Regions from separate parts of the Homo sapiens genome. Here region 2 is linked to region 1. Evidence: fine-mapped expression QTL. A gene starts in region 1. The other region holds a variant in brackets. All regions are shown on one strand. Distances are between the middles of the regions.

The links. PIP is the estimated chance that this variant, and not a neighbour inherited with it, causes the effect.
Region 2: its variant is fine-mapped to the expression of PTK7 in whole blood (TOPMed, PIP above 0.99).

The regions. Positions count from the first base shown.
Region 1 is chr6:43,067,966-43,083,625 of GRCh38, forward strand. PTK7 (protein tyrosine kinase 7 (inactive)) reads left to right here and starts at 8,349. Exons shown (of 20, transcript NM_002821.5): 1 at 8,349-8,602. The coding sequence starts at 8,524. KLC4 (kinesin light chain 4) reads left to right here. Exons shown (of 16, transcript NM_201521.3): 7 at 2,389-2,490; 8 at 2,727-2,900; 9 at 3,310-3,409; 10 at 3,602-3,654; 11 at 3,887-3,957; 12 at 4,182-4,290; 13 at 4,859-4,999; 14 at 5,258-5,373; 15 at 5,937-6,000; 16 at 6,657-7,128. The coding sequence ends at 6,707. It overlaps KLC4-AS1 (KLC4 antisense RNA 1), which reads right to left and starts at 8,265. Exons shown (of 2, transcript XR_002956347.1): 1 at 7,730-8,265; 2 at 6,368-7,302. RefSeq lists enhancers at 2,086-2,380, 3,217-3,717, 7,484-8,007, 14,778-15,344, 15,345-15,660 and silencers at 2,086-2,380, 8,337-8,436, 13,540-13,743.
Region 2 is chr6:43,135,648-43,151,861 of GRCh38, forward strand. It overlaps PTK7 (protein tyrosine kinase 7 (inactive)), which reads left to right. Exons shown (of 20, transcript NM_002821.5): 8 at 3,202-3,335; 9 at 3,489-3,624; 10 at 3,759-3,878; 11 at 6,021-6,170; 12 at 6,284-6,434; 13 at 6,525-6,652; 14 at 7,770-7,973; 15 at 8,804-8,959; 16 at 9,553-9,785; 17 at 10,971-11,051. Among named protein-coding and RNA genes, the nearest start is that of SRF, 28 kb to the right of the region's middle. RefSeq lists an enhancer at 7,779-7,868. The variant G/C (reference allele first, on the strand shown) is at 6,851.

The DNA.
Region 1 (15,660 bases):
GCCGGGCGTAGTGGCGGGCGCCTGTAGTCCCAGCTGCTTGGGAGGCTGAGGCAGGAGAATGGCGTGAACCCGGGAGGCGGAGCTTGCAGTGAGCCGAGATCCCGCCACTGCACTCCAGCCTGGGCGACAGAGCGAGACTCCGTCTCAAAAAAAAAAAAAAAAAAAAAAAAAAAAGAAAATATAGGTGGACACTTTATTAAAGTACAGTATTATAAGAAATCACAAGGGTCGGGCACAGTGGCTCATGCCTGTAATCCCAGCACTTTGGGAGGCCAAGGTGGGCAAATCACGAGGTCAGGAGTTCAAGACCATCCTGGCCAACATGGTGAAACCCCGTCTCTACTAAAAATACAAAAATTAGCCGGGCGTGGTGGGGGGCACTTGTAATCCCAGCTACTCAGGAGGCTGAGGCAGGAGAATCACTCGAAACCAGAAGGTGGAGGTTGCAGTGAGGTGAGATCGCGCCTCTACACTCCAGCCTGGGCAGCAAGAGCAAAACTCTGTCTCAAAAAAAAAGAAAATAAATGACAGACCAGATTTATTTGTGTATAAGAGGAAGAGACTGGGCTTGGTGGCTCACGCCTGTAATCCCACCACTTTGGGAGGCCAAGGCAGGTCGATCACCTGAGGTCAGGAGTTTGAGACCATCCTGGCCAACATGGTAAAACCCCGTCTCTACTAAAAAAAAAATATAAAATTAGCCAGGCATGGTGGCATATGCCTGTAATCCCAACTATTTGGAGACTGAGGCAGGAGAATCATTTGAATCCGGGGGTTGGTGGTTGCAGCGAGCCGAGATCGCACCACTGCACTCCAGCCTGGGCAACAGAGCAAGACTCTGTCTCAACAAAATAAGAAGCGGCCCAGCGCTGTGGCTCACTCCTGTAATTTCAGCACTTTGGGAGGCCGAGGTGGTCGGATCACCTGAGGTCAGGAGTTTGAGACCAGCCTGACCAACAAGGTGAAACCCTGTCTCTACTAATAATACAAAAATTAGCCAGTTGTGGTGGCATGCACCTGTAGTCCCAGGTACTCGGGAGGCTGAGACAGGAGAATTGCTTGAACCCAGGAGGCTGAGGTTGCAGTGAGCCAAGATCGCACCATTGCACTTCAACCTGGGTGATGGGGTGAGACTTCATCTTAAAATAAATAAATAAATAAATAAATATAAATAAAAGGAAAGAGAGAAACAACCTTAAGTAGAGATATCACGCCAAGGCAAATGATAGAGTTGTCAATGTACAGAAAATGAAAAATGAAAAGTTTGTTTGTTTTGTTTTGTTTTGTTTTGTTTTTTGAGATGGAGTTTCGCAGTGTCACCCAGCCTATAGTGCAGTGGTACAATCTGGGTTCACTGTAATCTCTGCCTCCCAGGCTCAAGTGATCCTCCTGCCTCAGCCTCCCAAGTAGCTGGGATTACAGGTACGTGCTACCACGCCAGGCTAATTTTTGTATTTTTAGTAGAGATGGGTTTTCACCATGTTGGTCAGGCTGGTCTTGAACTCCTGACCTCAAGTGATCCACCTACCTCAGCCTTCCAAACTGCTGGGATTACAGGTGTGAGCCACCACACCCAGCTGAAAAGTTATTTATTTTTTGTTGAGATAGAGTTTCACTCTTGTTGCCAGGCTAGAGTGCAACATGGCACGATCTTGGCTCACTACAACCTCCACCTCCCGGGTTCAAGCAATTCTCCTGCCTCAGCCTCCCGAGTAGCTGGGATTACAGACATGCCACTACGCCTGGCTAATTTTGTACTTTTAGTAGAGACGGGGTTTCTCCATGTTGGTCAGGCTGGTCTCGAACTCCTGACCTCAGGTGATCCGCCCACCTCGGCCTCCCAAAGTGCTGGGATTACAGGCGTGAGCCACTGCGTCCAGCCAAAAAGCTATTTTTGAATGTGATCTGTGTGAAAATAATTCCCTATGGTATGACATATGATAGGCAGGGATGATGTATCTCAGAAATCATACTCCTGTCTTGATATCCCATCAAATATCAATGTTTACATTTAGCGTTTGGATGTCTGGCAGGACATTAAAAAATTGGCAGAGCTGTCCCACACATGCAGAACATCTATAGCGTTCTTGCCTCCTCAAAGGTAATCTTCATGGTGACAACAACAACAACAAAAAAAAAAAAAAAAGAAAGAAAAAAAACACCTCCAGAAATTTCTTAAAATCCCCTAGAGGGCGATACTGTCCCTTAGCCTCAGAGCCATCCTGTTCAGCAATTTCCCCTCCCTTCAGCCCCTGGCTCCAGGGTAGTAGACTTTGTCTCTTAGAGTTGTGCAGTGAGTGTTGGGCCCTGCTGGGAGGTGGGGAACCTCAGATTCCCATAGGTCTTTTGCAACCCAAATGTCTGATGGGGACAGGCCTGTCTTCATAGGTGGCTGCCACACTCAACAATTTGGCTGTGCTCTATGGCAAAAGGGGCAAGTACAAGGAGGCAGAGCCTCTGTGCCAGCGGGCACTGGAGATTCGAGAAAAGGTACCCATGCCCTCTCTCCCTTCTTCTCTTGTCGCTGTGACCCTTCTCTACATGGCTCCTCTGGTCTAACCCTCCTCCTTCACTTTTTTTTTCTCACCCCCATCTCTGCTTTGTTCTCTCTTCCTTCATTCCCTTTCCTCTGCTTTCCACATGTGTGTGCCTACATGCAAACACACGTGTGCTTGTGCACACACATGTTATCATAGCCATTTATCCACTCCTTTGTTCCCTTTCAGGTCCTGGGCACGAATCATCCAGATGTGGCAAAACAGCTGAACAACCTGGCCCTCTTGTGCCAAAACCAGGGCAAGTATGAGGCCGTGGAACGCTACTACCAGCGAGCACTGGCCATCTACGAGGGGCAGCTGGGGCCGGACAACCCTAATGTAGCCCGGACCAAGAACAACCTGGTATGGGAGGAGGGACAAAGTAGGTGGAAGAAACGGAGAGGGGGGCACAGAGGTGGGGGGAGGGGGGGCAGGCGGAGAGGCCACTTGGGTCCTAGAGTCAGGAAGCATCACAGTCTGGCACACTGCTCTCATCAACTTTGTGCTCATGTCTGGGGCTGCCTTTGCGGATGAAGGATCTGCTTCATTCCAGTTATAGAAGTTCCACAGCTTCTTGGGAGTGGGCTGGGAATACCCTTGACCCTACACCTGGAGAAGGAGGTGTGAGAAAGATCTCTGGGGAAAGTGAGAGAGACACTGAGAAGTGGAACTCCCTGAGCCTGGTGAAGACCTTGTCTAAAAAAAAAAAAAAAAAAAAGACCTTGCCTCCCTCCATGTTTTGTTCCTGTATTTTTGCCTTTCTGTCCTCCAGGCTTCCTGTTACCTGAAACAGGGCAAATATGCTGAGGCTGAGACACTATACAAAGAGATCCTGACCCGTGCCCATGTACAGGAGTTTGGGTCTGTGGATGGTGAGTGGTGAGGGCCTGGGGAAGGGGCTGTGGGGAAGAAAAGAAATTCAGACCAAAGGTCGGGGGTTAGGCCACAGCGGTTCCCAGGGGGAGCCAGACCCCTTCAGTCCAGCCTGTCAGCCTCTGGGTCCTGGCTCTCCGACACTGTCTAGCTCCCATCTCTAACCTCCCCACCCCATGTATCACCCCTAGATGACCACAAGCCCATCTGGATGCATGCAGAGGAGCGGGAGGAAATGAGCAAAGTGAGTGGGGGGAAGGGGGGCCAGCCTGGGGAGCTCAAGGCTACCGGGGTCTCTGTCTTACTCCTTGCATTAGCCCAACTCTCACTTCCCATCCCAGCACCAGCCCCAGATGCATGGTGTCCTCCCCAGCCCAGCCTGCACCCTAGCCCCATGCCACCTTGCATCTCAGCATCTCTGTATTCTTATATTTGGCTCTCCCTGCCCTTCTTTCTGGCCTCTCTCTGTCCTGCAGAGCCGGCACCATGAGGGTGGGACACCCTATGCTGAGTATGGAGGCTGGTACAAGGCCTGCAAAGTGAGCAGGTGAGCTGACAGTGAAAAGCCAGCTTGGCCTCCGATGCCCTCCATCCAGTCCCTGCTCCCAGCCTCCCAGACCTTTTCCCTTCCTCCCGTAGACTTTCCCTCAGCTTTAGCTCTGTTCCCTCTCCTATTTTCTTATTTTTTTTCCTCTTGTCTTGCTTGGAAGACAAATGTTTTGTTTTCTGAACTCATTCTCTCTTCCTTCTCTGGTCTCTTTCTCACCACAGCCCCACAGTGAACACTACTCTGAGAAACCTGGGAGCTCTGTATAGGCGCCAGGGAAAGCTGGAGGCTGCTGAGACCCTGGAGGAATGTGCCCTGCGGTCCCGGAGACAGGTCAGAAGCCCAGAGGGGAAGGAGGTCCTAGAGGGAAGGGCCCTGGGGATGAGAGAGTGCCGAGGTTTCTTGGGAGTCTCCTAAGAATAAGCGGAAAGGCTGATGAAGCCAGGAGGGAGAGGAAAGTGAGGCAGTGTTGTGATTGTGGTTGTTTTTAAGCATGTTCTTACCCCCCACCTGCATTTTGTGGTCAGGACTCTAGTTTCAAGATTCACTAAATGGGGATATGAAGGAGAAACCCTGCCCTTTCATAAGGAGGGGACCTGGGTGGTATGGGTGAGAGGAGTGAGGTTGGGGAGAGCCTAAATCAAGAATTTCTTAGATTGTGGGTCTCAATAGTAGGTTGTGAAATCAATTCAGTATGGGCCATGGGGATAAAAATATATACAGATCTATATATAGCAATGCATTGCAAATAGAAAAGGTAAGTATTATTCCAGTAGGTATAAACTGAGACATCACAAGGAAAAATGTTTTCCTTCCAGTGGCTGATGGTGAAAAAAATTTGAAAGCCCCATCCTGAGGAGTTAAGGAGTAGGAAGTCCCAGGTCCTTCCTTTTCCTTCCAGGGCACTGACCCTATCAGCCAGACGAAGGTGGCAGAGCTGCTTGGGGAGAGTGATGGTAGAAGGACCTCCCAGGAGGGCCCTGGAGACAGTGTGAAATTCGAGGGAGGTGAAGATGCTTCTGTGGCTGTGGAGTGGTCCGGGGTAAGTCTGATCATTGCCTTTTCATCTCTCCTGCCCACTCCTGCTGGTGGTGGTGAGAGGCTCTTGGCCATGCTGTCCCAGTCTAGGTAGTGTATTCCTTCAGGGGTATCTCTGGGAGCCAGTTTTTGACAGGACTTTTATTTCCAGTCACTGGGCCTTGGGGGTGGGGGATGTGTGCAGAATAAATGCTAGGAGTAGACTCAGAAACCCATCTGTGTGGGATCCTTGTAGCTTTCATTGCTCACTCCTTTCTGCCAGGATGGCAGTGGGACCCTGCAGAGGAGTGGCTCTCTTGGCAAGATCCGGGATGTGCTCCGCAGAAGCAGTGAACTCTTGGTGAGGAAGCTCCAGGGGACTGAGCCTCGGCCCTCCAGGTATACATGGAAGTCAAGATACAGTAAAGTGGCCGGGTGCAGTGGCTCACGCCTGTAATCCCAGCACTTTGGGAGGCCGAGGCGGGTGGATCACCTGAGGTCAGGAGTTTGAGACCAGCCTGGCCAACAAGGTGAAACTCTCTCCTAAAAATACAAAAATTAGTCGGGTGTGGTGGCAGGTGCCTGTAATCTCAGCTACTTGGGAGGCTGAGGCAGGAGAATTGCTGGAACCCAGGAGGCAGAGGTTGCAGGGAGCCAAGATCATGCCATTGCACTCCAGCCCAGGCGACAACAGCGAGACTCCGTCTCAAAAAAAAAAAGAAAAAAAAAAAAGATATGGTAAAGCAGGCAAGTAAAGTAAGCCCTTGCCTCCAACTCCTCTTGGCTCCTGATCTCTGGAGAAGTATCTCGGAGAGAAACAGGGAGGAAGTCAACGGGCCAGCCATGGAGAGAGAGTTTGGGTAGAATGGGTGCCCCAGTGTGGCAGTGCTCAAGAGGCCCACAGCCTTAAGGCCACTCAGGAGGAAGAGAGGAGGCCTCAATTCTTCCGTTTTCCATTGTAGCAGCAACATGAAGCGAGCAGCCTCCTTGAACTATCTGAACCAACCTAGTGCAGCACCCCTCCAGGTGAGAGCAGTGCTTGTGAGCATATTGGTGGGTGAGGAAAAAAGGACAGCCAGTGAGCAAGCCCAGTGGAGTAAGGGAAGAGGGAAGGGAGAGGAGTCATCTGGGATGAAGATGAGCCAGGGGATTGCAGTCATTAAGGAATCAGGCAGATAGCTTGTGGTGAGTGCTGACCACCAAGGGACAGTTTCAGGCCAGACATAGTAGCAAATAAGTTAATAAGGAGGGAAATAGGAATATTCTGTAAACTGGTACTTTGGAATTATGAATAATTTAAGAATTATTTGGAGATACGAATTATTTTTTCATCCTGCAGCCGCCTTAGTAGTAGATGAGAATGGAAAAAGAAAAGTATTAAATAATCCCCATCTGAGAAAACACTAGTGATATTTTAATGGCAAATGACTTCTTGTATCAACACACAAGTATATGCCAGTATTCATGTGGTTCTTCCAGGTAGCTTCTCCACCAGATTGTGGCCTTCTGGAAAACCCTAGCAGAGGCTAAACAAAGTCCCAGGTCCAGAGATAGACTGGTCCAGAGACAGATGTGATCCTAGGTCCAGAGATACACTGTGACCATGGGATGGATGGACTCTAGGAGCCAGTCTTTGGGAGGCCGAGGTCCCTGAGCTGATGGGGTAGTGTTGTCTGTTTCAGGTCTCCCGGGGCCTCAGTGCCAGCACCATGGACCTCTCTTCAAGCAGCTGACATTCAACCCGGCCCCCAGGTCTGCTGGGTCCCCCCACCCCCACAGCCCTCACAGCATTCCCCATTGCTCCTGGCTCTTCCCCACCCCTAGGTGGGACAGTGAAGGGGAGCAGTTTAACCAGAAGATTGCTGCTGCCCTTAGGGTCTCAGCTCCCTCCTCAGGAATCCCTCTTAGGAAGGACCCTCAGGACACCCTCTCTGCACCCTGTGGTCCTCTAGAGTAGCTAGCTCTGAGGCCCCAAGGTGGGTACAAAGCAGGTATGGCCCTCAGAGATGCAGCCTGCTGCTGGCTTTTCAGTCAGAGGGTTGGGGGCTGGCCAGCCAAGCTGCCTTGCCCTGGCCGCTCTTACTCCCTCCCTCTGCTGTCTCACTTCAGGTCCATGTATTTCACTTTTCTTAAATAAAAGAATCAGGTAACCTTTCTGTGACTTGAGTCCTGATTGAAGAGGGTATGAAGCAGGGCTTGTGTTGGGGCCCTTCACAGAAGGTGAGGGGCAGTGATGGATGGAGCAGCAGGAGGAGTGTTGATTCTTGGATCTCTCCTCTCTTCCTCCCGTTGTTTGTATCATCTCCAGCAGGGCCTGTAGGAAGGCATCTGGGGGATGGGGAAGAAGGAGGCTCACAACCCAAGGAGAAGGTGCTGTGGACTGGGTTGTCAGGGACATGTGGTGGCCATGTGGCAGGACCCTGGAGTCCTGGCGCCACTTCTCCTGGCTGTGAGGCCCTCTGTGGCTGCCATTCCTCCTCCCAGCTGCTTGGGGGAAGGGAGGTCTAAACAGGCCTGGGGGGCCCTCCGGAACCAGAGGGGAGACAAGGCACTATCCATCCCCTCTCAGCATATCTTGGAGGCCTGAGCAGCAGCTGGGGCCCATCTTCTAAAGCTTGACTCCTCCTGACCCGCCTCCTACACCCCTTGCTGCTTTCACAACAAAGAAAGAATGTGGGGGTGGTGGCGCTGGGGGTGGGGGTGCCTGGAACAAGGGTTGTGCTGGGCCTCCCCACAGCTGGAGACTTGGCCATACCCTGACACAGCCCAGACTGCCTGGAGATGGACTTGGGATGAATTTGTCAGTTAGCAGACTTCAGCCTGGCTTTCAGAGCCCAGCGTGTTTCTACCTTTGGGTTCAGATTGGTCTACAGCCAAACCAGACCCCAGTCATGCACACTTCAGCCCCTCTCCGGGCTACACAGCATCTTCAGGTTACTTGGGGACATTAAGGACACCCTGCTGTTCTGGGTCTGCCGTTAAGATTTTGGGTTGCTGAAGAGTTGGCGGGGCCCGCCTCTTCCCCTGCCCCCACCTGGAGAATTCTGGGGGAACTGTTGGCCAGAGCCTCCAGGTATGCCCAGAATGGACCATTCTCCCCAGGGTCCACGGAATCGCACAAGTCACTTAGGTTCTCCCGGATCCCTGCAGAGTCGGTGGTGGGTACAGCAAATACTCAGGTCCCCTGCACTTCCCTGAGCCTTGCTCTCTCTATTCTCCATCCCTCTCCAGACCCCTCCCCCTACTGAGCTCCTCCCCGCCTCGGCGAGGAGGGGGCGTCGAGGGGGCGGGGCGCCGTGCGGGGGCCGGAGGGGAGGGGGCGTCGTGGGGCGGGGCTTGGCGGCGGCGGCGGCGGCGCGCGGGGACTCGGAGGTACTGGGCGCGCGCGGCTCCGGCTCGGGACGCCTCGGGACGCCTCGGGGTCGGGCTCCGGCTGCGGCTGCTGCTGCGGCGCCCGCGCTCCGGTGCGCTCCGCCTCCTGTGCCCGCCGCGGAGCGCAGTCTGCGCGCCCGCCGTGCGCCCTCAGCTCCTTTTCCTGAGCCCGCCGCGATGGGAGCTGCGCGGGGATCCCCGGCCAGACCCCGCCGGTTGCCTCTGCTCAGCGTCCTGCTGCTGCCGCTGCTGGGCGGTGAGTACCCGAGAGTTGGGGGCACAGAGCTTGGGAAGCGCGGGAGTCCCGTGGGCAAAAGGCTGCGCCCGGGGCGGTGGGTTTGGGCGGCTGGAACGGCCCTGGAGTAGTGGAGAGGCTCGCTGGGGGTGCAGGCTTGCGGCGGAAGGGCGCAAGGAGCCCGGGTGTCGGGAGGCTGGCGAAGCCTCCAGGGACGCGGTCAGGGTACCCCTCCCACTCGCGCCGCGGGGACGCATTTCCAGCCTCCCTGAGTTTTTCTGGTCTGAGCCGAGAGTTTGCTCGAGAACTGCCGAGAGTTGCTGGCTCTCGGGCCCAGATGGGGAGTTTCTTGTCGGGGGAGAAAAGACCATCCGCACCCACCGTGGGGAGCGCGATGGAGAAAAAGGAATTCCCCACCCCACCCGGCAGGGTCGGCCCAGGTAAGAGTTGCTGGTTTGGGGCCCGATGCCGGACAGACCTGCGGCGCGCAAAGCGCGGAGCTTTGTTACCTACGCCGACCCGACGTTCCCGGCTTCCCTCCTCCGAGTTCCTGGGCAAAGCTGAGACCCCAGATGGCCCTGCGGGTGAGGGCGGAAGAAGGGAAGAGTTAGGGGCCGCCCCCATCCATGGCCTCTAGCTACTGGTCTGGAACCCTGCGCCCACTCCGTGCCAGGGCCGAATCCGGGGATCCGAGGGTCCCAGGCTGTCGCGGTGACTAATGTGTGAAGGCCGCTGCCAAAATCGGGCATGGCCTGGCTGCAAAGGTGCGGACGGGGTTTGTTCTGCTCCTTCCTGGATTTCCATCCTGACTGTCCTCACAGAGGAAAGGAAGTATTTCTAAGGGAAGAAAGGCAAAAAGAGCTCATTCTGGCTTTTCTTGGGGGGGGGCCTTAGCATTTTAACGAGGGTGTGGCCCTCATCACCAGGGCAGACAGCACCGCCCCCCCAACTCCCGCAGCTTTTATTTCCTGGCTTGGTCACACCTAAGAGTCATCACTGAGGTGTTGAAGTGCCTTACAGGAAAGCACCAAGCCACCCGCACATCCCAAATAGCCCGGACTGGAAATAAAGCCCCCGACCCTCCACAACACTCCTTGGTGGTCCTCGAAGCAGCTTTCTCTTGGGGAGCTCTGTCGAGGAGACCTGTCCTAGGTGATCACCTTCCATCTCCTTTGAAGGTGGCAATGGGAAGGGCATGGGTAAGGAATTGCCTTTCTAATATCTTTCTGGCCTGCCAGCTGTGGAGGGGTTTTGGTGCTGGTGGAATCAACATCTCCCCTGCCCCCAGTTGTAAAAGGAGAGGTAAATGTAACCCAGGAAAGAGACCAATCTCCAGGGATTTGGAGGAGGTGTTTCTGGAGTTGCCCCGTTTTTCTTGTGATGTGTGTGGTGGTTATTGCTCGTGGCAGAATCCACATCTGCTCCCAGAGGAAGTATGGAAGTTTTTTTGCACAGCCAGGATGGGGGCCCAGCCATCTGGGCGAGCAGCCCAAGCTCACAGGCCCCCTGGCTGTCCTGGTTGGGTTTTGGTGTGTGGGTCTGCCCAATGAGGCTGCCTTCACTGCTGCTGTTCAGGGTACTAGAGTCAAGGGGAGTTTCTGGTGAAGATGGGGCTCTTGCTCAACAAATGCTGAATTCCTAAATTCCTTCCATGAGAAGATGACTCTGATGTTAATTGACTTAATCTGGTGACTGGTTGGTGTTTAGTGTGTGTGCGCGCGTGTGTGTGGGGGATCCTGTTGGGGGAAGTTAGGGCAGGCTGAGGGCTTAGGACAGGAGGTCTGTAGTCTCCTCAGGGGTGGGGGGATGTCTTGTGCTCAACAAAGGAACATTTTAATGAGAGCCTTAAATCAATTCCACCAAATGTGCCTTGTTGTGGAACCTGTCCATGTGCTGTAAACAATTTCAGTGGAGGCCGAGGCGCCTGCTGTCTTCTAGTGAAATCCTGGGACTCAACCCACCCCCAGACGCATGACTTCAGGGGCAACGGTTTTTTAATAGATCACAGTAGATGTTTGCATCTCATTGTTTAATTGTGTAATTAACTGGAGTTGTAGTGAGATCCCACTGTTAATAAGGCTGGAGTAAGGAACCTAGGCTGGCTAGGTTTGTGGATTAGACCATTTTAAAGTCTGGGTAATTATGCCATAAATGGCAGAGTTACTTTCCAAACTTTGAGATGCTGTTGTAATAAATATGGTGGAGGAGGAGGAGGCTTGATGTTTGAAACTATGGATTCTTAACCCCAACCTCTTGTACAGTCAGCTGTGGTCACTTCTCATTCCAATTCCCATCCCCCTCCCTGGTTTCTTTCCTCCGGGCTCTTGTTTCTTTGGGGAAATTGAGTCGTCATGTTCTGGGATAGGCTGTCTGCAGATTCCTCAAGGCTCTGCAGCCTGTAATTCAGGCCTAGGAGTTGCTTTTATTAGTGATGGCTTTTCTCAGCTGTTGGGAAGTATGGTGGCAGGGCAAGGGTGCTCTTCTTGTCACTTGTCAAATGATATACTCAAACTCCTGGTGTTCAGAGCAGCATTGAGTGGTGGACAGAGCTCAAGCAATGGAGATAAAGTATGGTCCTTCCTTGGCATCTGCAGGGAATTGGAATAGGACTCCCTGAGAATAACAAAATCCAAGGGTGCGGCCAGGCCTGGTGGCTCACGCCTGTAATCCCAGCACTTTGGGAGGCCGAGGCGGGCGGATCATGAGGTCAGGAGATTGAGACCATCCTGGCTAACACGGTGAAACCCTGTCTCTACTAAAAATACAAAAAATTAGCCAGGCGTGGTGGCGGGTGCCCGTAGTCCCAGCTACTCGGGAGGCTGAGACAGGAGAATGGCCTGAACCCGGGAGGTGGAGCTTGCAGTGATCGTGCCACTGCACTCCAGCTTGGGCGAGATCGTGCCGAGATCGTGCCACTGCACTCCAGCTTGGGTGACAGAGCGAGACTCCGTCTCAAAAAAAAAAAAAAATCCAAGGGTGCTCAAGTCTCTTATATAAAATGGTGTCGTATTTACATATAACGTACACACAACTTCCCTGTATACTTTTGTTTTGTTTTGTTATGAGACAGGGTCTCCTCTATCACCCAGGCTAGAGTGCAGTGGCACAATCTTGGCTCACTGAAGCCTCAAATTCCTGGGCTCAAGCAGTCTTCCTGCCTCAGTGCTCTAAAGTATGAGGATTACAGGCATGATCCACTATGCCCAGCTTCTCCTGTATACTTTAAATCATCTCTAAGGGCCAGGTTTACGCCTGTTATCCCACCACTTTGGGAGGCAGAGGGAGGAGGATCGCTTGAGCCCAGGGGCTCAAGACCAGCCTTGGCAACACAATGAGACCTCCACCTGTACAAAAAAAAAAAAAAAATTGCCAGGCATGGTGGCACGTGCCTGTGGTCCCAGCTGCCCAGGAGACTGAGGTGGGAGTATTGCCTGAGCCCAGCAGGTTGAGGCTACAGTAAGCCATGATTGTGTCACTGCACTTCGGTCTGGGTGACAGAGTTCAAAAAAAAAAAAAAAAAAAAGGGCAGGATGCAGTGGCTCACGCCTGTAATCCCAGCACTTTGGGAGGCTGAGGTGGGCGGATCATGAGGTTAGGAGAGCGAGACCATCCTGGCTAACATGGTGAAACCCCATCTCTACTAAAAATACAAAAAATTAGCCAGGCGTGGTGGCAGGCGCCTGTAGTCCCAGCTACTTGGGAGGCTGAGGCAGGAGAATGGCGTGAACCCGGGAGGCAGAGCTTGCAGTGAGCCGAGATTGCACCACTGCACTCCAGCCTGGGTGTCAGAGCGAGACTCTGTCTCAAAAAAAACAAAAAAATCTGTAAATTACTTGTAATACCTATTACAATGGAAATGCTATGTAAATAACTGTTGTATTCTTTAATTTGTATTCTTTTTTATTGTTGTATTGTTTTTAATTTTTATCTTCCCCCAGTGTTTTTGATCCTCTGTTGAGGGATGTGGAGCCCAGGGATAAGGAGTATATCTGGCAAAGCAGCAACTCAGACTCATTGGCAGGCCCTGTGGCCCTGGATGAACCTCTTAGCTTCTCAGCCTCTTCTATAAAGGGACATCCTAGAGTTGTGCTGAGGATTAAGTATAATGAAGTAGGCCGGGTGCAGTGGCTCACATCTGTAATCCCAGCACTTTGGGAGGCCAAGGCAGGCGGATCACCTGAGGTCAGGAGTTCAAGACCAGCCTGGACAACATGGTGAAGCCCCGTCTCTACTAAGAATACAAAAATTAGCTGGGTGTGGTGGCACACACCTCTAATCCCATCTACTCAGGAGGCTGAGGCAGGAGAATCACTTGAACCCGGGAGGTGGAGGTTGCAGTGAGCCGAGATCGCGCCGCTGCACTCCAGCCTGGGCGACGGAACGAGACTCCGTCTCAAAAAAAAAAAATACACACACACACACACACACACAGCCCTTTCTTGGTCTTCCCTCTGTGGTGTGCTTCAAAGATTCCTTCAGCTTTACAGTCATTCCCAACAATAGACATTTTACCTACTGGGACCCTCCATTCCAGTCCAGCTGGAATATTTGCCATCTCCTAACACATATCTGGTTTTCTCCCACCTTTCTTTCCTTCGGGCCAGTCCCCGGTTGTACATTGCCTTCTCCTGTCTCTCTGTTGCCCAGCCCCACCGCCTCTTCTTCCCTGAAGCTGTCCTATCTCTCCTGCCAGAAGGTAGACACTGTAGAACTTCTGGACTGTCATTCTTGCGACACCATCCATATTTTTGCCCCTATTGGGTTTTGTTTTAATTTACTGAGGGGCTCTCCCATAGAGTTTAGTACAGTACTTATTTATAATGGGTTCTTATGTAGGTGGTTTTTTTGTTTGTTGTTTGTTTGTTTTTGTTTTTTTTGAAATGGAGTCTGCCTGTGTCTCCCAGGCTGGAGGCATTGGCACGATCTTGGTTCACTGCAACCTCTACCTCCCAGGTTCAAGTGATTCTCCTACCTCAGCCTCCTGAGTACCTGGGTTTACAGGTGTGTGCCACTGCACCCAGCTAATTTTTGTATTTTTAATAGAGACGGGGTTTCCCCATGTTGGCCAGGCTGGTCTCGAACTCCTGACCTCAGGTGATCTGCCCACTTCAGCCTCCCAAAGTGCTGGGATTACAGGCGTGAGCCACTGCACCCAGCCGATATAACAGGTCCTCATATAGGTTTATTTAAAAAGTGAATGAACCATTTGGGTGCAGGGCAGAATGATCAAGGGTGGAGTTAAATATCCCCTTGCATCCTAGGCATGGGGAGTCTTTTGCACCCTCCCCAGCTTCTTTGAGTTGGGGTTGCCTGTTCCTCCTTGCGCCTGCTCTACGGTGACCAAATTAAGGATCAGACCTTCCTTCCCTGATCCTGGGCTGGCTGGTTTTGGTGGTGGTTTTTCTCAGTTTTGATGTGGTGGGTCTTCTAGCTTTCTCCAAGTTCTGTGCGTGGGTAAGCACCGCTACGTATGAAGCTGACTGCAACTTAAAAACTGGTGCTAAAGTTGCTTCCTCAGAGAACTGGGTAGGGGCCTAGAGTATCTATAACTGTGCTACTTGAAGAAAGACCCAGGGCCACGTGGCATCAGCATTCCTGGGAGCATGAATCAGAATCGCAATCTGCAATTTATTTATTTATTCTTTTTGAGATGGAGTCTCACTCTGTCGCCCAGGCTGAAGTGCAGTGGCACGATCTTGGCTCACTGCAACCTCCACCTCCTGGGTTCAAGCGATTCTCCTGCCTCAGCCTCCTGAGCAGCTGGGATTACAGGCGCGCACCACCACGCCAGGCTAATTTTTTTGTATTTTTAGTAGAGACAGGGTTTCACCATGTTGGTCAGGCTGGTCTCGAACTCCTGACTTCATGATCCGCCCACCTCAGCCTCCCAAAGTGCTGGGATTACAGGCGTGAGCCACCGTGCCCTGCTGCAATCTGCATTTTAACAAGATGCTCAGGTGACTCTGTACCCCAGAGTTCCAGAAGTCCTGGCCTAGGCATCCTTCTTTATACAGAATCTCAAGGCACAGAGCTTTCCTGTTGCAACAGTATAAATTGGGAGCTGAGATGCTGCACAGTATTTGAAGATTTGCTTTAAATAACTCACTTTATGCGAACACTCCTTGGGGTGATGTGTACGCTTTAATATTACCTCCTTTGGGTTTAAATTGAATTAGATTTTGTCAAGAAATTTCTCCATTAAATGTGTGACTCTAGGAAGTCTGCAATATTCAGCCTGATGTTTAGCTCCTCTCAGAACCTCAGCTTTTCCTAGAGGAGAATACGGCTGATTTTATAACGAAAGCCAGTGGAGAAACTGGATTTGTTAGGCAGAAATTTGGTCGACAGACAACTTTTCAGGAATACATTTGGCTCATAAAGGGAGGCATGTCTCCGCTGGGCTTTGACAGCTGTAGTGTTGTTAGTCTTTGGAGCATTTCATATTCTGGAGTGAGGGGGTTTGTGTGAGTCTGTGTTTAAGCCAATGCAGCTTCTGTGAGACTCGTCTGGGATAGAGGTTGGCCGGTTCAGACTCTAGTGTTGGAGCCAAGAGCAGTTTGGGGCCAAGGATTCAGTCTTTGGTGTTTTCCTGATGGAAGAAAGGGTCATTAAACAAGGTTGGGTGTCCTTGGCCTGTGTCCCTCAACCTCCTGCTCTCCCTAACCTCAGTAGATGCCTCTCTGCTGCTGTGCCTGGGCACTACCCCTGGCCAGAGCCACGTGGTGGGGTTACAGGCTTGGGGCCACAGTTGCTGGCACTGGCCCTCACCTTGCCCTGGAGCTGCCGCCTGCCCTTCTCCTGATTCCTGCTCTGGCCCCCATCTGCCTGGTCCTTCTTCTGAGGGTGTGAAAGTCCTGCCATTGTAGCTGGTTAGAGTCCTATGTTGGAATTCTCTTGAGTTCACTGCTGAGCCCCCTGGCGCTTTGGTGGAGCTGGCCTGAGAGATGCCACAGCTAATCAGCGGTTTGAGGAAGCCCTCTGTAGTATGTCACTTTTTCCATCCTCTTTTCTTCTCTGCATTTAGGCCGTTTCCCTCCCAATAATGTTACACAGACAGCAGTGGGGCAGGGAGGAAGCTT
Region 2 (16,214 bases), 68 kb after region 1:
GCCTGTGTGGCTTGAGTTGAATAAACGATGGTGAGAGGGGTTGAAGTTGCCTGAGAGGTGGAAACTAAATCCCATAGGCCTTGTAAAAGCATAGTAAGGACTTTGGCTTCGGCATCAGTTATCCATTGCTACATAGCAAACCACTTCAAAACGTGGTGGCACTTTGGGAGGCCGAGGCAGGTGGATCACTTGAGGTCAGGAGTTTGAGACCAGCCTGGCCAACATGGTGAAACCCCATCTCTACTAAAAATACAAAAATGGCTGGGTGCAGTGGCTCACGCCTTGTAATCCCAGCACTTTGGGAGGCCGAGGCAGGTGGATCACGAGGTCAGGAATTCGAGACCAGCCTGACCAACGTGCTGAAACCCCGTCTCTACTAAAAATACAAAAATTAGCCAGGTGTGGTGGCATGTGCCTGTAATCCCAGCTACTCAGGAGGCGGAGGTTGCAGTGAGCCGAGATTGCGCCACTGCACTCCAGCCTGGGCGACAGAGCGAGACTCTATCTCAAAATAAAATAAAAAATACAAAAAAAAAAATTATCCAGGCATGGTGGCACATGCCTGTAATCCCAGCTACTTGGGAGGCTGAGGCAGGAGAATCGCTTGAACCTGGGAGGTGGAGGTTGCAGTGAACAGAGATCGCGCCACTGCACTCCAGCCTGGGTGACAGAGCAAGACTCCAACTCAAAAAAAAAAAAAACCAAACCGTAGTGACTTGAAACAACAAACAACAGCCGTTGACATGCTTATGATTCTGTGGACAGGTTCAGGTGGGCCCGCTCGTCTACCTGGTGTGCTATCGGCTGGGTGTACACGTTTGCAGTCAGCTGATGGGTGAGCTGGCCTGGTCCCTGGCGGCCACACTCACCTGTCTGGCAGTTGACTGGGGCTATTGACCAGGGTGCCTTAGTTCTCCTCCACATGGCATCTCCAGTAGGCTAGCCAGGCTTCCTCACCTGGCAGCTGGGTTCCGAGAGGGCAAAAGTGGAAGCTGCAGTACTACCACTGTGTTCTGTTGGACAAGGGAAGTCACAGGCCACTCAGATTCCAGGGACTAGAAAAATACACCATGACCCAGTTCAGTGGCTCACGCTGCAATCCCAGTATTTTAGGAGGCCAAGGTGGGAGGACTGCTTGAGCCTAGGAGTTTGAGACCAGCCTGGACCACATGGCCAGACCCCGTCTCTACTAAAAATAAAAAAAAAATTAGCTGGGCCTGGTGGTACGCGCCTGTGGTCCTAGCCACTTTGGAGGCTGAGGTGAGAGGGTTGCTTGAGCCTGGGACGCTGAGGCTGCAGTAAGCCATAGTGGCGTGACTGCACTCCAGCCTAGGTAACAGGATGAGACCCTGTCTCACACACACAAAAAGAAATAAACTCTACCTCTTGATGGGAAAGTGTCAACATCACATTGAAAAGAGTTGAAAGGGATGGGAGGATTGTTTATAACTATCATTGCAAGCAGCCTACCACACCACATTGGATGGGAAGGTCTTGCAGGGTTTTGAGTGGAAGACTGATTTTTCAGAAGATCGCTCTGGCTGTTTTGAGACTAGAATGTTAGGGCCAAGAGTATAAACAAGGAGACCCATACTAAGTAGATGACTATAATAGTCTAGGGGAGATACTGAAGGAGCTTGAACAGAGGCAGTAGCGGTGGGGGTGAGAGGTGGTCAAATTCAGGATATATTTAGGAGCCCCAGTAGATAGGGTTTGGTAGAACGAGTGTGATGGGGGTGGGGTATAGAGAGAAGACAAGGCTAGCTTTTTGGCTTTCTTAACTGACTAGATAGTTCTATTGACTGAGATAGGGAAAATGAGTGAGCAGGTTTTGGGGGAAGTCAGGTGTTCTCTTTAGCACACGTAAAGTTTGAGATGCCTGTTGGATATCCAGTTGGAAATGCCAGTAGGCAATTGGATTTATAGGAATCAGGATGTAGTTTTGGGAACCAACCATTCATGTTGTATTGAAGGTTGTGGACTGGATGAGTGAGTGTTGCTAAAACAGAACAGATTTCTGAGGACTGCGCCTTGGCATTTTATGGTGTAATAAGAAGAACAAGGGTTTCAGAGTCATATAGACCAGAGTTTTAAATTCTGTCACTATTAGGTATTAGCAAATCACCATTACTTCTTCTTTTTTTATTATTGTTATTATTATTTTTTATCTTTTATTTGAGATGGAGTCTCACTCTTTCGCCCAGGCTGGAGTGCAGTGGCGTGATCTCGGCTCACTGCAACCTCCACCTCCCAGGTTCAAGCGATTCTTGTGCCTCAGCCTCCCCAGTAGCTGGGATTACAGGTGCCCGCCACCACACCCGGCCAATGTTTTTGTATTTTTAGTAGAGACGGGGTTTCACTATGTTGGCCAGACTGGTTTTGAACTCCTGACCTCAAATGATCTGCCCGCCTTTGCCTCTTAAAGTGCTGGGATTACAGGCGTGAGCCACTGTGCCTGGCCACCATTACTTCTTTGAACATCTGTTTTCTTAGCTGTAAAGTGCGTGTTGGAATACATACCTTGGGGGGTTTGTTTTTTTTGTTTTTTTAGAGATGGGGGTTTCACTCTGTTGCCTAGGCTAGAGTGCAGTGTCTTACAGCAGCCCTCCCGCCTCGGCCTCCCAAAGTGCTGGGATTACAGGTGTGAGCCACCACTCCCTGCCTACCATAGGGGCTTATAACTAAGATAATGTTAACTAAGTTAATTAATGTGACAGTTAACTAAGATAATGTTCAAAAGGTGCTGGTGGCCGGGCGTGGTGGCTCATGCCTGTAATCTTAGCACTTGGGGAGGCTTGAAGCCAGGAGTTTGAGACCAGCCTGGGCAACATAGCAAGACCCCATCACTACAGAAAATAAAAAAATTAGCCAAGTATTGTGGTGCATGCCTGTGGTCCCAGCTATTTGGGAGGCTGAGGTGGGAAAAATCACTTGAGCCTATGAGTTCGAGACTGTAGTGAGCCATAATTGTGTCACTCTACTCCAGCCTGGGTGACAGAGTGAGAACCTGTCTTAAAAGAAAAAAAATTTTAAAAAAGGTGCTGGCACCTGGGTCTTCCGTAAAGGGAAACTCCTGCCATCTGAGGAGCATGGGGCTTCTGAACTCAGGGCCTAGAATGGTAGTAGGATTTCTTGGAGATGGATCCTTTAGTTTTGGAGACCTGTGAAGCAGCCTTCACTGTTTCCTTCCTGTCTGTCTAGCTGTGCCCTCCTGGCTGAAGAAGCCCCAAGACAGCCAGCTGGAGGAGGGCAAACCCGGCTACTTGGATTGCCTGACCCAGGCCACACCAAAACCTACAGTTGTCTGGTACAGAAACCAGATGCTCATCTCAGAGGTGAGAAAGAAGAGTGTTGCTAGTGGATGGGCGGGGCCTTCCCTCCACTTGCCCTCTTCTGTGCTCACCTCCATAGCACTCTTACCCTGGAGGCAGCCTCCAGGGAGAGGTGGGTGTGGGTTCAGGCTCTGAGGCCTCTCACCTGTGCTGCAGGACTCACGGTTCGAGGTCTTCAAGAATGGGACCTTGCGCATCAACAGCGTGGAGGTGTATGATGGGACATGGTACCGTTGTATGAGCAGCACCCCAGCCGGCAGCATCGAGGCGCAAGCCCGTGTCCAAGTGCTGGGTGAGCCAGCATGTCTTGGGGGAGCACCCTTCCTGGCTAGGCAGGAGAGGAAAGGGGAGGGAGCAGCAGGCCTGGCCACGGCCTCTCCAGCGGCCCCAATTCCTCGTCTTTCTACCCACCCTCTGCTGAAACAGAAAAGCTCAAGTTCACACCACCACCCCAGCCACAGCAGTGCATGGAGTTTGACAAGGAGGCCACGGTGCCCTGTTCAGCCACAGGCCGAGAGAAGCCCACTATTAAGTGGGAACGGGCAGGTGGGTACAGTGCCGGCATAGGGTAGGGGCAGGCAGGCAGTTCACTGATCAGATACATACCTGAGGGCTGCTGGGTGCCCCGCACTGTGCCAGGAAATGTGGAGATTAGACAAGCAGTGCAGGGCTGATGTATAGTTTAGTTAGGAAGGAAAAAGCCAGACACAGAAGAGGTCAGATTATAGCCTTGGACAACATGGAAGACAACTCAAGGCAACAAGTGATTGGATTGGTTCAGACAGTGCTGTAAAGTCCTCTCTTCCCCTTTTCCAAAATAGTTTATCTTTTCCAACATAAAAATTACATGGAGGCCGTGCATAGTGGCTCACGCCTGTAATCCCAACACTTTGGGAAGCCGAGATGGGTGGGTCACTTGAGGCCAGGAGTTTGAGACCAGCCTGGCCAACATGGTGAAACCCCATCTCTACTAAAAATGCAAAAGTTAGCCAGGCGTGGTGGCACATGCTTGCAATCCCAGCTGCTTAGGAGGCTGAAGCAGGAGAATCGCTTGAACCCAGGAGGTGGAGGCTGCAGTGGGCCGAGATCATGCCATTGCACCAGAGTCTGGCTGACAGAGTGAGACTCTGACTCAAAAGAAAAAAGAAACAAAAGTTACATGGGCTCCTTTACAAAATACTGGAAGAGGCCGGGCGTGGTGGCTCACGCCTGTAATCCCAGCACTGTGGGAAGCTGAGGTGGGTGGATCACGAGGTCATGAGATAGAGACCATCCTGGCTAACATAGAGTAGTGAAACCTCGTCTCTACTGAAAATACAAAAAATTAGCCAGGGGTGGCGGCACGCATCTGTAGTGCCAGCTACTCGGGAGGCTGAGGTAGGAGAATTGTTTGAACCCAGGAGGCGGAGGTGGCAGTGAGCCGAGATTGTGCCACTGCACTTCAGCCTGGGTGGCAGAGCGAGACTCCATCTCAAAAAAAAAAAAAAAAATATTGGGAGAAAAAATGTACAGTCCTGCCGTTTATCATCTTTGGGTGTATGTCTTCTTTTTCTGTGCATATGTTTTTCTTTTTTTACCTAGCAGTTTTATTGTATATATAGTTTCAGTTATTAAATTTACATGATTGGCTGAGTGTGGTAGCTCATGCCTGTAATCCCAGCACTTTGGGAGGCCGAGGTGGGAGGATCGCTTGAGCCCAGGAGTTCAAGACCAACCTGGGCAATACAGGGAGACCCTGTCTGTACAAAAAATTTAAAAATTAGCCAGGCATGGTGGTGCATGCCTGTAGACATGCTTATTGTAGAATTAGACAATACAGATAACTATGTAGTTTTTAAAAATATTTTTTAAAATTATTTATTTTTATTTTTTTTGTAACGGTGTAATTTTATACCCTTTTTTACTTACCATTGTCAAGCATTTCCCCACATCTTTATACACTCTTCATGAATATTTGTTTTGATGATCCTAATAATATTTCAACAATTGGATTCACTGTAATTTACTTAACTGTTCCTTAAATGTTGGAGATTTGGGTTGTTAACCAGCCACCCACCCACCCCCTTTTTTTTCATTGCTGCAATAAACATCTTTAAGCCAAAGTTTTTTTCTGGATTTAGGTTTATTTCCTTTGGGAAAGATTCCCAGAATTGGGATAATTATGCACGAAAGGGGGTATGAACATTTTTATAGCCCTTGATGTGAGTTGCCAAATTATTTTTTAAAAGGTTGGACCAATTTTGACATTTCCACCTAGAGTGAGAGAGTACAGTTGTAGATTCTGAGGAGGAAGTAGGCTCCCTCTGCTCAGGTCTGGGGGAACTTTCTGGGAGAGGTGAGGCTTAAAATGGATCTACAGCCTGGGATGGTAAAGAGCGGGAATGGGCTCTAGGAGGGAGAAGTGATGGGCAGCGGAGTAGGAACAGGGCCGATCTGGGCCCAAACAGAGTCCGGTTTGGCAGACGTGGAATGTCACACAGGGCAGTAGGAGGAAGAGGTGAGACTGAAGAATTGGAAGAGGGGTAAATAACGGAGGGGCTTCTAACACTTGGCTCAGGAGTTTGGACTTTGCCTGTGGGTGGTCAGGAGCGATGGTGTGTTTTTGAGTAGAGGTGAGGGACTGAAGGCATTGCCAGCTGTCTGTGTAACCCTGATCCTTCCCATAATTTCCCTTTGTTACCCCTGCAGATGGGAGCAGCCTCCCAGAGTGGGTGACAGACAACGCTGGGACCCTGCATTTTGCCCGGGTGACTCGAGATGACGCTGGCAACTACACTTGCATTGCCTCCAACGGGCCGCAGGGCCAGATTCGTGCCCATGTCCAGCTCACTGTGGCAGGTGCGACCGTGGCAGGGCCCTGGGGCTGGGAGGGCCCTCTGGGGTAGCACCGTGTACCCTGCCAGCCCCTTGGCTTACCCCTCCCTGCGCCTCGCTGGTCTCTTTTCTTCCAGTTTTTATCACCTTCAAAGTGGAACCAGAGCGTACGACTGTGTACCAGGGCCACACAGCCCTACTGCAGTGCGAGGCCCAGGGGGACCCCAAGCCGCTGATTCAGTGGAAAGGCAAGGACCGCATCCTGGACCCCACCAAGCTGGGACCCAGGTAGGGCCACCTCTCTCCCACACCCGTCCCTCCTCTCCTGCAGCCCCCCTCCCTGCGAGCTGGCCAGCACTATGGCTTCTCCCCCGACAGGATGCACATCTTCCAGAATGGCTCCCTGGTGATCCATGACGTGGCCCCTGAGGACTCAGGCCGCTACACCTGCATTGCAGGCAACAGCTGCAACATCAAGCACACGGAGGCCCCCCTCTATGTCGTGGGTATGGGCTGGGGAGGGTTATGCTGCACAGGAAGTGGTGGGCCCAGACGTTTGTCACCTTGTACTCAGCCCCTGTGTACAGAACATGGCACAGAAGCCATTTTTGTGGCAGCGGTGGGGATTCGGCCGTCTCACCATGCTGCTGCACAGTCTTAGAGTCCTTGCTCAGAGCCGGGCTGTCGTTTATTTAACATCCAAC[G/C]GTCGGTGTGTGTGTGTGTGTGTTGTGGGGGAGTGGGGGGGTGTTCTCTTCCTACAATGCTGCCTCCCAGGTTCCTGCAGCAGCCACACATATCTCTGGGTGGCTGGGGAGGAGGACCAGGTCAGAATGCAGTAGGACAAGGTTCTTTTCTCCAGGAGGCCCAGAGAGGATGATGGGTCAGGTAAAAGGCCCTGCACTTAACTCTCTGCCCCTGGGAGACTTATTTCTCCTCTGGGGACTTGTTTCTGCATCCACAGGTGAAAGTGGTTTAAATGAGAAGCTCTTAAACTTTCTTGGTTTGGCAGCAGAGTTATTTTTCTAGACAAAGTATAATGTGAAAGTTTAAATGGATGAAAATGAACTGAGGAGGCCCCCTTGGTGGGAGCCACTGGGGTGTGTGTGGCAGTTGGGGGATCCTGCATGGTCTCCCTTCATTCCCCTAATGCCTCTTGAGGCCCCTCAGTGTGGGCCATTAAAAGGCCCCTAGACCAGCAGATCCCTTCTACAGATCTGCTTATTGAAAAACCTGCTCTGTGCCAGGCAGTGCCTGGAATTCTAAACCTGAAGCTCCCAAATGCTGCTCTCCGGGGCCTGGCTCACATTATCAAGTCACTTGGGAAGCTTAACAAATAACGTGGGTTTGTGGTAGCTCCTTGACAGGTGTGCTTATCCGTGTCGCCTGTCTTGGCTTCCGATGCAAAGCCAGCTTGGGAACCCCTGGCCTCATCTCCTTCAGAGTCTTCGTTTGACCTTGGTGGGGCATGAGGACCTGCTGGCCCTTGTTAAAGCCAGTGAAGGTGGTGACCCTCCCGGGCCATCTGTTAAGTTGCCCTGTTGATGGGGTTGGGAGGAGTTAGTAGAGAAGCAGGGCTTCTTTTGCTTAGCAGCCCCTGCCCAGACCCATCTGTGTGTCTCTCAGACAAGCCTGTGCCGGAGGAGTCGGAGGGCCCTGGCAGCCCTCCCCCCTACAAGATGATCCAGACCATTGGGTTGTCGGTGGGTGCCGCTGTGGCCTACATCATTGCCGTGCTGGGCCTCATGTTCTACTGCAAGAAGCGCTGCAAAGCCAAGCGGCTGCAGAAGCAGCCCGAGGGCGAGGAGCCAGAGATGGAATGCCTCAACGGTGAGGGGCCCTGGACGGGGAGGTGGTGCCCGTGTGCGGGAGCTGAGCGCCCTCCCGCGGCCACGGAGGGGAGAGCGCCAGCACTCTGGAAACCGAGCGGCTGTTGCTGGGTCCTGGAGCTGGGACTGCCCCACCCCTAGCGGGAAGCCTGGAGTTGGATTCCCAGGGCCTCGTCTTCTGAGCAACCTGGCTTGAGACTTCTTCATTGGAGCCCCTTGGACCAGCTTCCTATGATTCCCTGCTGTTTCCTCCTCCCAGCACAAAACCACAGATATCATTAGTATATGTACACACGTTGCTGTTGCATGTCTTGTCTCCCTCTATGAGTCTAAGAGCTCCCCCAGGGGCAGTCTTTCTGTTTACTTCCCTTCTCCTATCCCCACTTCCTGGACTGGGAGCTCCTTGAGGTCATTGCTGGGTCTCTCCTATCAGCTCAGGTGTTCAGGAGCAGAGGTTGGGTCTCCATTATTGTGATTTTCCCTTTGTGCCTGTTTAGGGCTTTGCCCAATAGGAGGCCCCATGAAAGCAAAAATCCTTATGTGTAGCTATGGTATTAAGGACCAGTGATTCAGATTAGATGTCTGCAGTTGGCTTCATCTCAGAGGTCATAATCAGCTGCATCACTAAGGGGTCATACCCTAGGGGATAGCCATACATCCCCCACCCAGCCCCAGCCCCATTATTTCATCATTTGGGCTTGCCCTTTCATGTGGAGCACTGTGATTGGACCCAAGTTGGCAAGAGTGGAAGACCAGGGGACAGAACAGAAATCCCCATGGTGGCCAGAGTGTCAGGTCTCATCGTGACGCTCTTGTCCTCCTCCTTCCCAGGTGGGCCTTTGCAGAACGGGCAGCCCTCAGCAGAGATCCAAGAAGAAGTGGCCTTGACCAGCTTGGGCTCCGGCCCCGCGGCCACCAACAAACGCCACAGCACAAGTGATAAGATGCACTTCCCACGGTCTAGCCTGCAGCCCATCACCACGCTGGGTATGTTGCCTTGACTACAGCTGCCCCTGCCTAACTACAAGTCACCCGCTGTGTCTTGAGGCTGGGTACGGGCTAGTGTTCTGAAGTCCCTGAAACCTAGAATGTTAGAGGTGGAGGGAAGCATAGGTAGAGATCTAGCCCAGTGTGGCCCCAGAGCCTGTTATTCACTGCCCTTCGTGCAGATTTTGTCATTCCTGTGTACTACCTGTAGTATTATTTACTTGATGTTTTATTTAAATTGACTCTTTAAAAAAAAAAACTAAGTTACCATTGTTCTAGGAAAAAATATGAGAAATCATGGGTTTGTCATAGTTACGTTTTTTCCTAGCATACGTTAAGACATGTTTACCATGAGCCACCAAAAATTCTCATGCGAGTCACCCTTTGGAAAATGCTGAATATTAGTCCCACCCTTTTATTTTGTTGCTGCAGACACTGAAGCCTAAGGAGGGAGGGGGTCACAGCAGAACCGGGTCTCGTGCCCAGCCCAGGTGGGTGGGTCCCCACTGTGGGAGAGGCTAGGCCCCTCCCCCAGGTCAGGAGCTGCCTCGGCCTGGGTGAAGGTGGCTGGCTGACTCAGACTGTACCCACAGGGAAGAGTGAGTTTGGGGAGGTGTTCCTGGCAAAGGCTCAGGGCTTGGAGGAGGGAGTGGCAGAGACCCTGGTACTTGTGAAGAGCCTGCAGAGCAAGGATGAGCAGCAGCAGCTGGACTTCCGGAGGGAGTTGGAGATGTTTGGGAAGCTGAACCACGCCAACGTGGTGCGGCTCCTGGGGCTGTGCCGGGAGGCTGAGCCCCACTACATGGTGCTGGAATATGTGGATCTGGTATGCTGTTGGCAGGGGACGTGGGGGTCTCGGGTAGGGAGGGCAGTGTCCTACAAAGGTGGGAGTCAGTGGTTGGAGCACCGTGAAAACCTTGTCTCGTGCAGTCTCAGCCGAGACCTCACCTGCCTGCTGTTACACTTTGCCCACCTTATGATGCTCAGCTTCTGCCTTCCCTGCTCTTGGATGCCTGCTTTCCCTTTATCAGCACCCAGTCTTTCCATCTGTATCTCAGGGGCGTTGGTCCTAAGTTTTTCTGGGACTTCTCACTGTCACACTGCAGGGATGCCTTCCAGGTCATCTTCTCTGACTCTTGTTTTCTTTGGTTTGTTATTTTTTCCTCCCCAAAAGCTTGTCCCCACTTGAGAATAAATATATCAGAACCCACTTTGCCTCCCTCCTTCCTAGCACCACTTGTGACATGAGTGTTACCCCAGCCACCAGCCTTCTCCTCTCCACTCAGGGTGTCATTCCCAGAGCTGCGCCTTCCTCTTCATTCCCCAGCTGGTCCTTGCCCTCACCCCATGGTCCTCAAACTGCTGCTTCTCAAATCCCTAGTTCTGGGGCAAGAGCGGGCAGGAGTCCTATCAGTCTTTCCATTAACAAGTACTTACGCGGCTGGGCACAGTGGCTCACACTTGTAATCCCAGCACTTTGGGAGACTGAGGCAGGAGGATCGCCTGAGGCCAGGAGTCCGAGACCAGCCTGGGCAACATAGCAAGACTCTGTCTCTACAAAAAAATTAAAAACAAACAAACAAGTACTTATGAATGCTTTATGTATGTTTCTGCTGCTGGCGTTCTCCTTTGTTTGTTTAGATTAGATTGTAAAGCTCTGGAGGACAGGGGTTTCCTCTCAGGAATCTTTGAGGGCAGAGGGTAGGGGACTGTTTTCCTCTTGGCTCACTGAAGATGGGGGCTCTGTTGCCCCACCTGTCTGGAGGTTCCCCTTGGGGTAGAAATGCCAATTCTCCTCCTTTCTAACTGAGACAGCCTCTAGGAGGCGTCTCCTATATATTTTTAAAGTTCTGCACTCCCAGTGAACTTCCCCCTGGGAAAGGGGCCCAGGCTAGCTTAGGCCTTCTCACTGCCTCCCCAGGCAGGAATTCTGCGAGCACCTGCTTGGTCTGAGGCTTTACAGCCAATGGCTGTGCACTGACCTGAGCGAGATGCCTGGCTTTTCCCTTAGGGAGACCTCAAGCAGTTCCTGAGGATTTCCAAGAGCAAGGATGAAAAATTGAAGTCACAGCCCCTCAGCACCAAGCAGAAGGTGAGGACAGGGAGTGAAGGAGGGAGGGAGAGGGTGCCCAGGGGTGGGCCAGGAGCAACAGAGGCACCATTTATTGAGGGCTCTCTATGGGCCAGGCCCTATGGTAAGAACTTCACATGTGTTACTGTAATTATCACGGTAGTCGTCTGAAATATATACTACTATCCCCATTTTGTGGATGAAGACATTGAGGCTTAGGAGGTTGTCTGACCTGTCCCAGGTCATGTAGCCTGGAAGTGGCTTTGCATTGCCATGCTGGCTTCACGGAGAAGAGCTACCCTCGGACCTTGCCTCTGGGCAGGAGCTTGCATTGGAGCAGGACGCCTGCCCACCTGCAATGAGCTCTGAGCTGGAGAAGCAGCAAGCAGTCCTAGTGCAGGGGCCTGCTGGGCTAGCTGTGGGCCTGAGCGTGTTTCTTCAGCTCTGAGTGGAGAAGACTCTTCTGTGAATGGGCTGCCTGGGTTTCCCCCTCTGTGGTTTGCATCTTGTCCTCTCCCTTGGGCTGTAGCTGCCCAGCCTTTCATTCCAGTTTTCCTCCTGCCTTTTGCGCAGAGGTTGTTCTGGGCACAGAGCCCTGGCTGGGGCCCCTGTGGTAGAGCAGACCTTGGTTGAAACAGTGAAGAAGGGAAAGCTTGCCTGCTACCCCCTGCCACCTCAGTCCATACCTTTCCAGTGCCTGGGGCTTGCTGTGGCCCGGCCCCTTCTTCCTTCCCTCAGGTTCTTCTTGCCCACAGCTGCCTCCTCTCCCCTCTGAAATGGATCTACTTCCTTCCATGTGACTGGAGAGTCTGCTTCCAAGCTGGCAGTGAAGTGACCTCATAAACCAAATCAGAGCTCAGGGCAGGGTAGGCAGAAGGCTCTGCCCTTTCTCCCAGGGGACCATTCCTTGCCTGCTAGGCTGTCCCAGGTCACAGACTCTGGAGGCAGAGCAGAAAGGCATGGCTGGCAGATGAATCAGGTGAATGGGACCCTGGCTGCCCCCAATCTCTCTGGGGAAGCAGCTCTGTGCCCTTCAGGCTGGCCCCCTCTTATTACATGTGAATTTACTAAGACCCAGACAGGACAAGTGACCTGGCCACCTGACACCACACCCCTACCTCCTTCCCCATGAAACTGCAGGAACTGTGTATAGTGGCTGTAGAGGAGAAGCCACAGGATGGGACTTGCTACACCAGCTAAGTGAGATTTCAGGACTAAAGAGCTCACAAATTAGGACACTCACAGAGCCAGTGACTCCTCACTGAGCCAGGTGTGGCCCCAGGGGCCCTTGGGAATGCAAAATTAAAACAGACAGGCATCAGCTAGGTGCGGTGGGAGGCTAAGGCAGGAGGATTGCTTCAGCTCAGGAGTTTGAGACCAGCCTGGGCAACATAGTAAGACCCTGTCTCTACAAAAAATAAAAAAAAGTTAACCGGGCGTGGGGGCATGCCTGTAGTCCCAGCTACTTGTGAGGCTGAGGAGGAAGAATCATTGGAGCCCAGGAGGTCGAGGCTGCGGTGAGCCATGATTACACCACTGCACTCCAGCCTGGGCAACAGAGCACGATCCTGTCTCAAAGGGAGGGGAGGGGGGGAAAGGACAGGCATCTTGCCCTTGGGGCACTTATGATCTAGTGAGGAGATTAGGTACATGAGTATGACCTGTGCCTTACAGACTTGAGGTAAAACAGAAAGCAAGTGGGAGGCATTAAGAGATGTTGAAGACACCCATGTCCTGTAGGTGGACAGATGGTTGTGGTTAACAAAGAAGTCTTCCTAGTAGAGAAAACCATTTGAGTTTAGTTCACAAGGACAGGATGTAGTTGAATGGCAGAAAGGGGATGGCTTCAAGAGTCAGGGGAGTCAAGGTGGGATTCTCTGGCTGGGATGAGACATAGGCTGACAGGAAGTCAGTTACCTTTCTCATGTGACCTAAGGGACTCTATTTGACTGCAAGTCATCACCATCTTTGCTAAATATCTTTTTCACACTTTTTTGCCATAGTGTCTTAAATATGATGGGGGAACTTTAATAAGTTGGGTTCTACACTCTCCAAGGACCATACTCTGCGTTACATAGAGAGGATGCTTTTAAAAAAAACAGGCAGGGCTCAGTGGCTCACACCTGTAATCCCAGCACTTTGGGAGGCCGAGGCGGGCAGATCACGAGGTCAGGAGTACGAGACCAGCCTGGCCAACATGGTGAAACCCCGTCTCTACTAAAAATACAAAAATTAGCCAGGTGTGGTGGTAGGTGCCTGTAATCCAAGCTACTCGGGAGGCTGAGGCAGGAGAATCACTTGAACCCGGGAGATGGAGGTTGCAGTGAGCCAAGATCGTGCCATTGCACTCCAGCCTGGGAGACAAGAGCAAGACTTTGTCTCAAAAAAAAAAAAAAAAAAAAAAGAAATGCAGGCCAGGCACAGTGGCTCATACCTGAAATCCCAGCACTTCGGGAGGCTGAGGCGGGAAGATCACTTGAGGCCAGGAGTTTGAGACCAGCCTGGCCAACGTGGGGAAACCCCATCTCTACTAAAAATACAAAAAGTACCTGGGCATGGTGTCACGTGCATATAATTCCAGCTACTCGGGAGGCTGAGGCAGGAGAATCGCTTGAGCCTGGGAGGCAGAGGTTGCAGTGAGCTGAGATCTTGCCACTGCACTCCAGCCTGGGCAACAGGAGTCAAACCCTGTCTCAAAAGAAAAAAAAAAGATTTCTGGACCATGACTCAGAATGAGGGAATTAGAGTATTTGAGAGTGAGGTCTAAAGATGTGAATTTTTCAAACAAGCTCTCCAGCTGATTCCTAAGCTCATTAAAGTTCAAGGAGCCCTGGTGGAGACTAGTAGCTTTGAAATGCTTTTTGATTATAATCCCTTTTAGGAAATGCATTTTAAGCTGGTGCAGCAGTATGTGCCTGTAATCCCAGCTACTTGGAAGGCTGAGGCCAGAGGATCCCTTGGGCCCAGGAGTGAGGCCAGCCTGAGTGACATAGCAAGACCTGCATCACTTAGCAACAACAAAAAAGAAATGCATTTTACTCATGATCTGGTGTGCAGGCTCATATAACTAAAATTAAACTTTCACAATGTTGTGTTTGATGCACTTGATGTTTTCTATCCTGTCCTCTTTTTATTTATTTTTATTTTTTGTAGAAATGGGGGTCTCGCCATGTTGTCCAGGCTGGTCTTGAACTTAAGTATTCTAGGGAGGTGGAGTGGTAGGCAGGGTGTTCCCTGGCCAGCTAGAGTTGGCACCAAAGTGCCATATTGGGTGTGAGTGGGCTGAGGGGAGCCTCAGGAGGATTTTAAGAGAGCAGTGAGTTAGTGACAGAAATCAAAGACATGGGTCCTGGGTGTTGGCATAATGGTAGGTAATGCCTTTTAGAGTAGCTGATAAGATGATATCAGAGAGCTGTAATCTGTGATTGCTTCATGGATCACTTGTGAACTAATGATGTGATGAGAAGCAGGATCAGCTTAGCACACCTGGTGGACCATGCTTTATGCAGTCAGATGCCGTGGCAGGAAACAGAAGGCCTCTTGTGAGATCTCATAGCATCACAGTGGGTTAGCCAGAACATGGGCAAACCCCTGGGGTGTTAAAATTGGAAAGGAAGGAGTGGGTCTGATCTTTACCAAAGAACGGGTCTTTTATAACAGTATTTGAGAATTACTCCAGTGGCTATCTGATGGCATCTTGCCCAGCATAAAGGAAACACCGAATTGGCTTGAGTCTAACAGAATTCCCTTTTACTGCCCTTGCTTTCCGGAAGCACCACCTCTCTGGAAAGATAGCAAGTCAGTTACCATGCCAAGTCCACCTTCTTCTGTTTACCTTGACTAGCAGCAGATTGTTTAACTTGTGAGCCAGATCAGAGAGAGCAGGCCAAGGGGACTCACAAGTCTGATGAGGGCACGTTACCAAAACCTTTGCCTGCCGCTTACAGAGAATCAAGCAAGGTTGGACAATGCCCTGGGATTTTGAAGCCTGAAGTGGAGTTGGCTCTGTTTATGATGGCCACTGAAGCAGCCTGGCCCCTTTACCACCAGTGCACCTGAGGCATTCTGAGGACGGTGCTGCAGGGGTTATTTTAGGGATGTAGACTCAGCTTTTTTTTTTTTTTTTTTTTTTTTTTTTTCCCGAGACAGAGTCTCGCTCTGTCTCTGTCACTCAGGCTGGGTTGCAGTGGCACCATCTCGGCTCACTGCAGCCTCCGCCTCCCAAGTAGCTGGGATCGCTCTTCAAGCGATTCTCCTGCCTTAGCCTCCCGAGTAGCTGGGATTACAGGAGCCCGCCACCACACCCAACTAATTTTTGTATTTTTAGCAGGGATGAGGTTTCACCATATTGGCCAGGCTGGTCTTGAACTCCTGACCTTGTGATCCACCCACCTTGGTCTCCCAGAGTGCTGGGAATATAGGTGTGAGCCACTGTGCCCAGCCAGACTCTGCTTTTTCATGGAAACCCCAGTGTACTTCCCTGTACCCAGAGAAGAGAGGCCCAGTAATCCTGACATGCCATCCACCTGCCTTCTTTTTTTTTTTTTTCTTGAGACCGAGTCTCGCTCTGTCGCCCAAGCTGGAGTGCAGTGGCAGTGATCTCTGCTCACTGCAAGCTCCGCCTCCCGGGTTCACGCCATTCTCCTGCCTCAGCCTCCCGAGTAGCTGGGACCACAGGCGCCCACTACCACGCCCGGCCAATTTTTTTGTATTTTTAGTAGAGGTGGGGTTTCACCGTGTTAGCCAAGATGGTCTCAATCTCCTGTCCTCGTGATCCGCCCGCCTCAGCCTCCCAAAGTGCTGGGATTACAGGCGTGAGGCACCGCGCCCAAGCCCCGTTTTTTTGTTTGTTTTTTGTTTTTTTTTTTTTTCGGAGACGGAGTCTCACTCCGTCGCCAGGCTGGAGTGTGGTGGCGCGATCTCGGCTCACTGCAAGCTCCGCCTCCCGGGTTGACGCCATTATCCTGCCTCAGCCTCCCGAGTAGAGTAGCTGGGACTACAGGCGCCCGCCACCATGCCCGGCTAATTTTTTTGTATTTTTAGTGGAGACGGGGTTTGACCAAGTTGGCCAGGATGGACACAATCTCCTGACCTCGTGATCCGCCCGCCTCGGCCTCCCAAAGTGCTGGGATTACAGGCGTGAGCCACCGCGCCCAGCCCCCCCGCCCCCCGCCTTTTTTTTTA